Linked DNA regions of Homo sapiens: regions 1 and 3 are each linked to region 2. The links come from fine-mapping of genetic effects on gene expression. A gene starts in region 2. Each other region holds a variant in brackets. All regions are shown on one strand. Distances are from middle to middle. Region 1 holds the start of LOC284950 (a long non-coding RNA gene). Region 2 holds the start of MRPL35 (mitochondrial ribosomal protein L35). Region 3 overlaps REEP1 (receptor accessory protein 1).

Region 1 (4,225 bases), 390 kb before region 2:
ACCCAGAGAGAGTGAGTGAATTACCTAGACTCACACAGCAGGTCAGTCTGGGCACTGTACTGGATGATTCCTGGCAGGGAGAGGGGTGCTGGAGGCATGTTTAAAAATCAGGGACTGGAAGAGCCTCTCAGCCTCAGAGAAGACATCTGAAGCAGCCTCTGAGCCACACGGAGCACCCCCCGCCCCCACCCCAATGAAGTGGGAGAGGTTCCCAGGCGCAGGGGGAGGAAAGGGGTCATGCAACCACGTCCTTGCCTCCCGCCACGAGTGTACCCCGAGTCACCAGGTTTGCTCAGCCGCAGCAGGGCCAGCCCCGGCGGCTGGAAGGCGGCGGCTGGGCCTGGACGTGGGTGTGGGCGCCCCCGGCCTCCCCCCGCCCCCGCAGGCGCCCCCCACCCCCCTAGCAGGCGCCCCGGTCCCTGTGTGGGCTGCTTTGACTCAGCGCCGGGAGCCGAGCTTAGGCAAACCACGCCGCACTGGACGCCATTCAAGCTTTTACAGGCCCTCAAATTGGGGCTGGAGCCGGAGAGGAAATACTAAAATCCTGTGTACACAACTTCTGTCTGGGCGCGCCGGGGCTCTGGGAAAATCAGGCGCGGCGAGGGACACATTTGGACTGTTTAAGGGCTCCTTTTCCCTGCTCTGCTTTTAGCAGGCATCACGATGTGTCGCCTAAAACCAAGATTCCTGGGTGTGGGCGCAGGAGGGTCTGCGGAGTGTGTGAGCTGAGGCTCGGCGGGAGGAACTAAGCTTTTCTCCTGCCCCCACGTGCCAGGCACACATGCGCCCAAAGTTGGGTTCAGAAATCCCTGTGGTCCATAAACCACACACTCTGCATGGCCCAGGCCCCTTCCCCTGCAGAAAGATGCAGCTGTCGGATGCTGGATCCTCAGAGCCTGGGCTTGGGAGTTAGGCAGGCCTGGGTGGGAACCCGGCTCCCCACTTGGCAGCACTATGACTGTACTGTGGGCAAGGGCCTCTATTTCCTCATCTGTAAAATGGGCGTGATCATGGTAAGTTACCTTGGAGGTTAAAGACATGATGTAGGTGGGGAACTAGCTCAGAGCCTGGCACATAGTAGGTGCTCCCTAAGTGGTAGCTGTTAGTATTTATATGGATTAATAGTGATAGCATCATGTTGAGCCTGGCACATGCTAAGTGCTGCCTACAAATCAATTCATTTAATCCTCACAGCAGCCCCATGGGATAATACTGTAACCCCATTTTAAGGGCAGAAACTAGGTCAATTCATTGACCTACCCAAGGTCACAAAGCTGGTGACTGGCCGGCCAGTCAACTGAACAAATGAACAGTTGAACCCAGGCCATCATTTTCATAGTGCAGATGATTTGCCACACTCTGAACTGTAACAGAGGAGGAGCTGGTGGTGGCCAGAGCTGCTGATGAGCTGTGTGTCCATGGCATCCTCAGCCTGGCACCGAGCCCCCCACACCTGGGCCTCATCCCACTGTCCCAGTTCCAGCTCTGCCAAGTGCCCTCAAGCACTTCCCACCTTGGCCCACCAAGAGCCCGAGCTGCCCCCTCCTACCTCTCGGCCTTGGCTCAGCCTCTCCCCCACCCCCAAGCTCGCTGGCTGCCTGCCTGTGCATCAGGCCACTCACTGGCCACCCCTCCGGTGGGGCTGGCTTCTCCTCTGAGCTGCAACACTTCCACCCCCAACCAGTGCCTTCAGCCTCCCTTCCTTCGACTTGGGCCACGCTGGTCTGTGATATGTTTGTTTCCCTCATTCTGGTCACTCGTCAAAACCCTACAGATCTGAGGCCAGACGTAGTGGCTCATGCCTGTAATCCCAGCACTTTGGGAGGCTGAGGAGGGTGGATCACCTGAGGTCAGGAGTTCGAGACCATCATGGCCAACATGGTGAAACCCCGTCTCTACTAAAAATACAAAAATTAGCCAGGCATGGTGGCATG[C/T]GCCGGTAGTCCCAGCTACTCAGGAGGCTGAAGCATGAGAATTGCTTGAACTGGGAGGCGGAGGTTGCAGTGAGCCGAGGTCATGCCATTGCACTCCAGCCTGGGCAACAGAGCAAGCCTCCATCTCAAAAAACAAAAACAAAAAATCCCCCAAACCCTACAGGTCTGGTCTAGTCTCTTGTGCAGAGCAGGGTCTCCCATTTGTGGAAACGAATTTTCATTGGTGGTAAATATTGGGTGATTGGTGACATTGTCCTCACTGGTGACTTGTATGAAGGAAAAAGAGAAGCCCCAGACAGTTTGTATAAGGAGGCAGGAGACAATGTGGGCATCACCCCGTGTTCCTGACGTCTGCTGCCAAGCACGTGGGGGTGTAACTCCTCTGCCCACCCTTCCCCCTACAACCCCCTTAATTGTTCTGTCATCAGGGCCTCCCAGGAGCCCATGCTGTCTCAGGTAATGGCAGAAACCTCAGGTAACGGCAGGTGTGTGAGCTCCTGGCTGGGCTTCCCTATACCAGCAGCCTGCAAAGGGTTTCCATTCTGGGATCAGAGGGGCTCCAGGCCTGCCCATGAGCCACATGATGCCAACCTCAGTGTGGGCCATGCCAGGCCTGAGACCACATAGTGGATCTCCCAGACCTCTGCTGGGCAGCTAGAGCTGCCATCCCACTTCCCCCAAACAGCCCAAACCCCCAGTGCCCACACCCAAGAGGCACGACAGTGTCATGGAAATAACATGGCCCTTGGAATCCAGAGATCTGGGTGTGGGTCCTGATACTGCAGTTCCATGAGGTCTTGGACAAATCACTTAACATTCCTGTGAGCCTCAGTTCCCCCATGGTGGTAATCATGTATATTTTACTTTGGGATTGAGAGACAGGAGAGGTATGAGAGCACCTGGAACACTGTGGGAGCTGAAGTGTTGGTTTAAGTGGGAGTCACAGTTGTGGTGGGGAGCTAGACTTGAGGGGTGACAGGATGACCCAGTGAGCTGGCCCAGCAGTAAGAAGGGAGGAATTGATGATGGAAAGGCTGGCGTCCCCTGGTCTGGCCTCTGCAGGACTCGTAGTTGAGTCTCCCCACCCCTTAGAGTGGGGGTATTCCTGGCCCCAACCACTTCACACCTTTGACGCTTGGGGGAGGGATGCATATACAGGTGGAGGCTGCTGGGAGTCTGGGGTGCCATGTGGGATACCCCAGACATCTGGCAGAGCTGCAGTGGTGCCCTATGGGTGCAGACTGGTTTGGGACCACACGTGAGCCACCCCAGGGGCTTCCAGAAGGGCGCAGTGCCAAGGCAGCTGAGGATCACGAGTAAGGAGCCTAAGGGGGCCAGAGAACTTGGGGGCGTGTTACTTGTGTCTAAAAATTGGCAGATCGAGGGTCAGGGCATCTGGACTGCTCCAGTGAATAAGGGAGAATGCACACTGGCCACCATCAGCTGCTGGGTACAGCCGGGAGAGCTGGTGGACTTGGAACAGGAACAGTCTGCATGGCGTGACAGCGCCCTCTGCTGTCCAGGCTGGGCTGGCATCGATGGTACAGGAGGAGGGTGATCCTCACACCTGGCATGAGCAGAACCTCCACTTCAAGCAGCCAGGGCTCAGGAGCAGGAGGGACCCCGGTAGATGGGAAACTCATTCCCATTTTACAAATGAGAAGACAGGCTAGGAGGAGTGTAGAAAGTTGCTCAGGGTCCCGTAGCTATTAAATGGCAGAGCCAGACTCATCCTGCAATGCCCTTCCTTCTACCCCAGACTGAATCATTTTATGCAAAATATAACAGGACTCAGGGATGCTGGAAACAGTACCCTTCTTTATTCTATTAAAATCAAATTAGATCTGACTCCGCCTCTGGCTGGGCTGCAGAAAACTTCATTCTGACTTGCTTTTGGAGATGGGAGTGGGTGCTGCTCCTCCCTAGGCCTGTGCAAGAGCCAGGGAGTCTAAGGTGATGCCAGAAAATGGGTGTGAGGGAGTAGTGTTTAAATCTTCAGTGCGTCAGCACCACTGTGAGAGCTTCGTGTCCAAGCCTCAGGGGGTCTGTGCTGCCTCCTTGCCCAGTTTGGCAGCCTGGGCCTGAGGCCATGCCACTCGCTCCCCTGAGGCCCCCTACAGCTTGGCTATGCCATCTGAGGTCTTGCTCCCCCGCCCCCACCTCAGCAGGTACTGCTGCTCCCAGCCATGGAGTTCTCTCAAAACCTTTCTCAAACCTTTTCCTCCCCTCCCCAACCCGCAGCCTAATCCCCTTAAATTGCTCCAGATCCTAGAAAATAAAAGCAGGAAAGG
Region 2 (4,215 bases):
AGACTGAGGTGGGAGGATCACTTGAGCCCAGGAGTTTGAGACCTGCCTGAGCAAAAGAGTGAGACCTCTCCCAGCACTTTGGGAGGCCGAGGCGGGCGGATCATGAGGTCGGGAGATCGAGACCATCCTGGCTAACACGGTGAAACCCCGTCTCTACTAAAAAAAATAATAATAATACAAAAAATTAGCTGGGTGTGGTGGCAGGCACCTGTAGTCCCAGCTACTTGGGAGGCTGAGGCGGAGAATGGTGTGAACCCGGGAGGCGGAGCTTGCAGAGAGCCAAGATCGCACCACTGCACTCCAGCCTGGGCAACAGAGCGAGAGTCTGTCTCCAAAAAAAAAAAAAAAAAAAAAAAAAAAAAAAAAAGTGAAACCTCATCTCTATAAACAATTTTTTTAAATTAGCAGGGGATGATTGTGCATGCCTGTGGTGCCAGCTACTTGGAAGGCTGTGGTGGGAGGATCCCTTGAGCTCAGGAATTCCAGGCTGCAGTGATTGCACCACTGCACTCAGACCCTGTCTCTAAAAAACAAAATTTAAATCAAGTCACTCACTTGTTCAAAAATGTGCAGTGAGGCCAGGCTCAGTGGCTCACACCTGTAATCCCAGCACTTTGGGAGGCCAAGGTGGGAGACCTGTTTGATTCCATACCAAATAATTGAGACCACCCTGGGCAACATAGTGAGACCTAGGTCTCTACAAAAAATTTAAAAATTAGCCAGGTGTGTGCCTGTAGTCTCAGCTACTCAGGAGGCTTAGGTGGGAGGATTGCTTGAGCCTAGGAGGTCGAGGCTGCAGTGAGCTGTGATCGCACCACTGCACTCAAGCCTTCGCAACAGACCAAGACCTAGTCTCAAAAAAAAAAAAAAGTGCGCAATGACTCCCGTTGCCAATTCAAAGAGCTTTTATGAATGTTTCAATATACTTGTCTAGCGTATGTGCCTGTTTTTGGACTCAAAGTGGCCACCATAGGTGGGAGATCAAGTTGGCAACAATAGTGTTCCAAGGTAATACACCCTATATCTTGCTCTGTACCCCAGGCTGGAGTGCGGTGGCTCAATCTTGGCTTGCTGCAACAACCGCCTCCCAAGTTCAAGCGATTCTCCTGCCTCAGCCTCCCGAATAGCTGGAACTACAGGCGCGCGCCACCACGCCCGGCTAATTTTTTGTACCCCTTAGTAGAGACGGGGTTTCACCCTGTTAGCCAGGATGGTCTCAATCTCCTGACCTCGTGATCTGCCCGCCTCGGCCGCCCAAAGTGCTGGGATTACAGGCGTGAGCCACCGCGCCCGGCAAGAATTTTTTTTTTTTTTTTGAGATGGAGTTTCGCTCTTTCGCCCAGACTGGAGTTCAGTGGCACGATCTCTGCTCACTGCAACCTCCGCCTTCCGGTTTCAAGCGATTCTCCTGCCTCAGCCTCCCAAGCCCGGCTACTTTTTGTATTTTTAGTACAGACGGGGGTTTCATCATGTTGGCCAGGCTGGTCTCGAACTCCTGACCTTGTGATCCGCCCGCCGCGGCCTCCCAAAGTGCTGGGATTACAGGCGTGAGCCACCGTGCCCGGCCCCAAGAATTTTTTTTAATAAGAAATTTTGTAGAACCTTCTATAGGCAGTCGTTTTACAGCGGCGAAGAACGGAACCCGGCAGATGACATTGAATAAATGTTGAGTGGACAACTTTGTTCTTTTCCTCTTCCTTGACTCCGCCTCCTTGCTTTCCCTTCATTCTCTTTTGCTCTTGTGCTTTTAAACCCAAAGCGGCCGCCGTAGGCGAAGGTGAAGATGGCTGCCTCTGCCTTTGCTGGTGCAGTGAGAGCAGCTTCAGGTCAGTGGAGAGCGACATACTCCATGCATGCCTTCACAGAAGGGGAAACTGGTGCGGGATGGAATGGGCGTTTAGACTGGAGGTTAACAAGCAAAAAGGGTCATTATTTAAGTTAAGAAGGTTGCGCCCAATTTTCTCTGGGGCGGTGTGACCGGCAGCCCGTACCAAGTCCCCCGACTCGGACTCACGCGGGCCTGTGTGTCACGCATTTGCCGCTTCCTTACCAGCTTTTTTTCCCTAGAAAAGAAGCCAGAGAAACTGGAACGGAGGGGGCGAGGGAAACCAAAAAGTCTCACCTAACTTTCTGATTTAGAGGCTACGACCTGCCATTCACGACCTTTAACCTTGAGAATTAATGTCTCCTAACTTAAGATTCTACACCTCTAAAATGGGGGTCATAACCACCTACCTGGGGATTAAATGAGATAATGCACGTAAAGCGTTTTGGGCAGTGCCTGACACATGGTAAGCTTGAAGGCTAATTTAATTTTTAACTACAGCCCCCGGCACAAGGGCTGGTATGAGGACTTCTTGACTGAGAGATAGCAGAAGTAAAGGCGACTAAATTAAGTTGCCGTGACGTTAAGTACTTTTTGCAAAAAGTTAAAAATCATCCAAATACCATAGGATGCTCAGTAAGTTACTTTCACACAAAATATATTGTTAGGATAACATTTTGTGGGAGAATATACGAGATCAGTCAAGAAAATGCAGCGATGTAAATTTTACCGTTAGAGAAAAGCTTTTTTTATGTGGAGTATTTTTTGTGTTCGCGAAATATAATACATATGAAGAAAATTTTATATAGTATGCATGAATGATTTAACAGTTCTAAAGCAAACACCTGTTTAACACTCAGGTCAAAACAGTGCACTACCAGAAGCCTCCTCTCCCCTATGTATCAAAATTCTCTACTTCCCCCCCAGATATAAACACTGTTCTCATTTTTATAGTTACTATTAGGTTGCCTATTTTTCCTATAGTAGTTTTAGCATCCATATGTGCATCTCAAGAACATAGTTTTGCCTGGTTTTGAACTTCACATGAATTGGTTCATACAGTATATACGCTTTAGTATCTTCTTTTACATTGTGAGATTCATTCATTCATTTTGCGTAGCTGTAATGCTTTCTCATTGCTATATAATTCTTTTTTTTTTTTTGAGACGGAGTTTCTCTCTTGTTGCCCAGGCTGGAGTGCAATGGCACGATCTGGGCTCACTGCAACCTCCTCCTCCCAGGTTTAAGTGATTCCCTTGGAGTAGCTGGGATTACAGGCATGCGCCACCACGCCCAGCTAATTTTGTATTTTTAGTAGAGTTGGGGTTTCTCCATGTTGGTCAGGCTAGTCTGGAACTCCTGACCTCAGGTGATCCGCCCGCCTCGACCTCCCAAAGTGCTGGGATTACGGGTGTGAGCCACCCTGCCCGGCCTGCTGTATAATATTATATGACTGTGCCACAATTCTCCATTTCCAGTTTGGGGCAATTATGTACAAAGCTGATTGATCTCATCCTGGCGCATGAGTCCAATTGTTTCTGAGGATGTGGGTATGTGTGAAAATCGCTGTGGAATTGCCTGGTCAGAGAATATGTATATATTCAGCATTGCCTGATATTGCCAAACTGTTGAGGCCCCACATCCTCACCAACACCTGATATTGATATTGTCAATAGATATTGTCAGACCTACAAATTTTTGTTAATCTGGTGGCTTTGTAATGGTATCTCATTGAGATTTAAATAAGCATTTCTCTGATTAATAACAAGCTATAGTGTGTTTCACATTTTTATTGGCCTTTTGAATTTCCTTTATGAAATATCCACTTAAATATTTTGCCCATTTTCCTATTGGATTGTTTGTCTTATTTATTTAGAGTATTTTTTGTTTTGTTTTTGTTTTTCATTTGTGTGTGTCCTTTAGCTTCTCCCACTCAGGCTTGTCTTTTTTACATTATTTTGGAGTGCCCTTTGACGAAAAGTTGTTTTTCATCTACTTGAATTTATAGTTCTTGTAATTTTTAAATAGATGATGTAGGTAGTTATCAACTTACTATTAATTTAGATTCTACTGAAAACAATTTAAAGAGTGATGTGACAGCTTATTTTAAAATGTCAGTATTTTAAATATGCTGGAAATTATAGCCTTTTTAACAATTTAAACTATTTGATATTTTAGATATTAAGAATTTGTGAAAGGGTAGTTTTTCAAAATTCTTTTAGGAAACATAGGATCAGAAATCTTGAAGACTCCTGGTTTCGATACTGTCACAGTCTCCTCCACTCCCATCCAGTGCAGTTCATGTCCCCCATTCATTCCTTTGATTCATGCCACATAGGGCCATTGTAATTCCCCAAATGTACATCGTCACCTTTGTACGTCCTATTCCC
Region 3 (4,225 bases), 31 kb after region 2:
TCTGTTTTGCACTTTTCTTCACCTGGCATCATGCTTTCAAGTTCCACTGTGTGCACCCTTAATCTGTTGCTTCCAGCAGCTGCAGAGAATTCCACGAGGTGCAGCTCCCACCTCTCTCCAGGTTGTCTTCAACCCCTGCCACCTGTCCAGGGTTTGCAAATTCTCTGGTTTGCTCTCCTCACAACCCTAAGACATAGGCTGAATAGGGACTATTCGGTCTTTTTTACAAAGAAGAAAGCCTGAGGGAATCAGGTCTGTCCTCTGTGCCAAGGCCAAATCTATGGTAGCGACTGCCTGGGTTGTTCTGAGAGAAGTTCTGAGGCTGAATTGAGGCTCAGGAGGAAGGAGCATGCCTTGCTGTGCTGCATTTGCTGTGTCTGCACAGGCCCGGCATCACCCAGCCAGGATGAAGTCTAGCCTCTTCCCCTTTTCTGGGGCCCTTTCTGCTACCTGATCTGGCCTGGCATCTGAGGCCCACACTGGGGGCTGAGCTGGGGAGAGTACACCAGCCCGGTATAAATTGGCTTCCTCTGCCAGACTTCCTCCTAGGCATGTTGACCTTACTTCAGGGTATGATAGCCCAAGAGCCTCTGACCCAGGAAATTCTGCCCCATATCCACGCCCCAGGCCATCTTTCACCTGTCTTCCTTTTTTTTTTTTTTTTTTTTTTTTTTTAAAGATGGAGTTTCACTCTTGTTGCCCAGACTGGAGTGCAATGGTGCAATCTCATCTCACTGCAACCTCCGCCTCCCCGATTCAAGCGATTCTCCTGCCTCAGCTACTCCATGAGTAGCTGGGATTACAGGCATGCACCACCACGCCTGGCTAATTTTGTGTTTTTAGTAGAGACGGGGTTTCTCCATGTTGGTCAGGCTGGTCTTGAACTCCCGACCTCTGGTGATCCACCCTCCTCAGCCTCCCAAAGTGCTGGGATTACAGGCGTGAACCACTACACCCAGCTCCTGTCTTCCTTTTTGAGATGGCTTTTATTTTAGGCTCCAGAACAGCTGGAAAGAGCACTACACTGTCCTTGGCCTCCCTGCTGGGTTGCACCTTTCCTCTTTGCCCCCTGTGGTCATAGGTGCGGAGGCCAAGGGGGCCAGCAGTGAGGAGGGCTGGGGCATAATGCAGCACAGCTGGTCCTCTCAGCCTGGGACAGCCAGAACACTCCCCACTGCCTCCCTGGGGCATGGCAGGGGACGTCATCACCTCTGCTCATGGAGAGTGGCAGAGCCAGTGCCAAAGCAAATCATCCCAAATGCTTTTCTACCTGATGCTGGGCTGGGAAGATACTCCAGGCCCAGAAGACACTGCCATCTCCCTGCAGACCCTGCCAGCTTCTTGCATTCCCAGTTCTGAGGCTGCCCTGAATAATTCACCAGGGGAGGTCTAGGCAGGAGGCCTGGATTCTGGGCCTGGGGGCCTCAGCCCAGTGCACAACCTCTCTGAGCCTGCTTCCTCCACTGGGCTCACCTCTAAAATGGCAACACAGACTCTTAGAGGCAAAGGGACGCCAGGGCCACCTAAGCCCGCTTCCTAGCCAAAGCAGGAATCCCTCCCTCGAACCTGACCATCCAGCTTTGGCTTGTGTCCTTCCAATGTCAGGGACCTCACTACCTCCCAAGATGGCCCATTTTGCTCCTGGACACTTGCAGCATGACAATGCGCCTTCTCAGGAGAGACAAATTACAAAAAGAACAATGATAACAGCTACTATGCACTGGCGCCAGGCATGGCCATAAGCACTTTCACATGGCTGGTTTCATTTGAAGCCTCACAACAACTCTACAAAGGGGTGTCATTCCTTGTGTAGATAAGAAATCTAGGGTGCAGAGATGGTAAA[T/C]AGCTCGCCCGGGTCATGCGGCGAGCAAGTGGCTACCCCCTTCGAACTTCACCCCACTGGTTCTTGCTCTCTGCCCTCTGGGTTTTACTGAATTGAGGCCCCTTTTCCATCTAAGGGGCAGCTTTCATCTGAGGCTTGGTAGATGATGAGCTGATGCAGTGTGGAGATGAGACTTAACTCTGTTTTGTATCCCTATTTCTGGGGCAGTGTCCGGCAGATCAGAAGCTGTAGATGCTTGACAAAGCCTGGATGGTTGATGAGTGAGTGACCATGGGCACTGGCCCCGGAGTCAGAAGGCCACGCTCTACTGCAGCCCAGCATGGGTGACCCTGCACAGTCCCCTTCTCTGGACCTCTGTCTCTTCACCAGTAAAATCACTGGGTTTGACTGAAAGATCCCTGAGGTCATTTCCTGTCTGGCCTTTTGGGATTCCATTCCTGGGGGGGGGTCCCTCGGGGGGTAACCCCTCCCTGAGGTGGCCATCACCCCCACAGCCGAGCCTCCACCTCCCCAACCCTGCCCTGCTTCCAGCAGTGACAGGGTTAAAACATCTCCCAACAGAAAAGCCACAGTCTTAAGACCTGCGAAGGGCCAAGGGGACACTGCTGAGAGGGAGGAAATGGACGGAGCCCTGAGCTGCACTTGGCTCTGAGCATGAGTTGCCATTCCCAGGCAGCCGCAGGCCTCATGCCTTCCTGTTGATGGCTAAGACCCCCGGGCATCAGATGGGGTCTGTCAGGACATGGGGCTTATGGCCAAGGTGTCCCCTGCAGGCTGCATAGTCACAGGTGGCCAGACATCTCTGTTTATAGATTTAAGGGCCACGCAGTCACCAGACAGACATTGTGGACATAGATTCCCACCCTTCTCACCACAGCGAGGCAGAAGTGGTGATCCAGAACCGTCCCCCACCCCCCCACCATCAGTCCTGGGCAGCTGCTGTGCTCAGCCCCTGAGACCCAAGGCCCCTGGCATCCTCCCAAGGAGCAGCCTGGGAAACTGTGTGCCCCCACCCTCCATGAGCCTGAAACCCGTGCTGGTGGATCCGATGTCGGGGGGTCCCAAACACGGCTGCATCTCAATGAAAATCACACTTCTGGGTCTCACCCCAGACCTACTGAAGCCTCTGCGGATGGGCCCAGGACTTTGCATGTTTAACGAGGTCCCCAGGTCAGTCCCAATACCAGCAATCCCACGATGGGCGTGTGACACCAGAGTCAGACATTGGAGGCAGAGGTGTGGTTACTGTAAGGTCCTGGTCACCACAGGAACAAGAACTCAGAGCTAGCATGGCCCTTGGTATGCAGAGGCTGGGGGTGGTGTGAGGTACATGAGAGGTCAGAGATGAGAAGGAGACAGCAGAGTGAGAGAGAGGACAGGCAATATTCAGGCAGGGAAGAGGGCCCGTGAGAGCAGTAAGCCCCGGGTGAGAAGACAACACTTAGGTATCAACAGGTATGCCTCCCCGGAGTCTGAGAAGACAACACAGAAGGCTCCCGGGGCCCAGGTCCAGTTGTGCCTGCTGCCTCCAGGCTTTGCCTAGACACTAGCCCCCAACTACCCCCAATTCCCCAGACAATCATATGGAGGAAAGGGGACCCTTTGGTGCAGGTGACCTAGCCCTGTCCCTGATCAGTCACCAGGCTGGTTTCCTGGCCGGGCCTGAGGGGTGCTCCGCCCCTTGGCTGACCTGGCATGATCTGATGGACACCCCGTTGGTGGCAGGTCCGTGGGGCCAGGGCCAGGCTGCATGCCACACTGCGGACTGGGCCTCTCTCAATGAAAGCGAGGCCCAAGGAGTGGGAAAGAGGGGAAGTAAAGTGACACCTACCTGAGCTGCTAGCGCTCTCAGAAGCACTCCTGGACATCTTAGGCTGGCCGTGTTTGCCGCTGGCCCGCCCAGACCCCGGTGGTGGGGGGCCCGAGGGAGCAGGGGCGCCGTCTCCCCTGATGGTGGTGAGGTCCTGCATGCTGAAGCTCCGCAGTCTCTCCGATAAGGCACCCTGTCCCTGGATACAACACAGGAGGGGCACACGTCAGAGGTCCTGCTCCACAGGTCACACTCGACAAAGGCCAAGAGGGAGCTCTGATGGTCAGCCAGGTGGAAATCAAGACCTGGATCAACTCTGAGGCGCAGGTGCCCAGACATAGCTGCTGGAAACACAGAGAGGGTCAAATCCCGGAATTTTCCAGGGCCTCCTCTGGGGCTCAGTAATTGCTCCTTTGGCTCCAGGATCCCTCCCTACCCTCAGACACCACTATGATGATACGATGATACGATGATGATCCGGAGCCTCAGACAGACCCAGGGCCAAGGGCGTGACTACTGCCTGCAGCTCCTACTCCTTCCAGGCCACCTGCTGCTTCTCTTGCTTTGCATAA

Evidence for each region. PIP is the estimated chance that this variant, and not a neighbour inherited with it, causes the effect.
Region 1: its variant is the best candidate, but not a certain one, in a credible set for the expression of MRPL35 in skin (TwinsUK, PIP 0.85).
Region 3: its variant is the best candidate, but not a certain one, in a credible set for the expression of MRPL35 in whole blood (INTERVAL, PIP 0.73).

What each region holds. Positions count from the first base shown.
Region 1 is chr2:85,810,943-85,815,167 of GRCh38, forward strand. It overlaps LOC284950 (a long non-coding RNA gene), which reads left to right and starts at 4,188. Exons shown (of 3, transcript NR_038888.1): 1 at 4,188-4,225. The variant C/T (reference allele first, on the strand shown) is at 1,935.
Region 2 is chr2:86,197,708-86,201,922 of GRCh38, forward strand. It overlaps MRPL35 (mitochondrial ribosomal protein L35), which reads left to right and starts at 1,750. Exons shown (of 4, transcript NM_016622.4): 1 at 1,750-1,826. The coding sequence starts at 1,784. RefSeq lists an enhancer at 1,569-1,838.
Region 3 is chr2:86,228,951-86,233,175 of GRCh38, forward strand. REEP1 (receptor accessory protein 1) reads right to left here. Exons shown (of 9, transcript NM_001371279.1): 6 at 3,675-3,852. Among named protein-coding and RNA genes, the nearest start is that of MRPL35, 32 kb to the left of the region's middle. RefSeq lists an enhancer at 1,762-2,420. The variant T/C (reference allele first, on the strand shown) is at 1,844.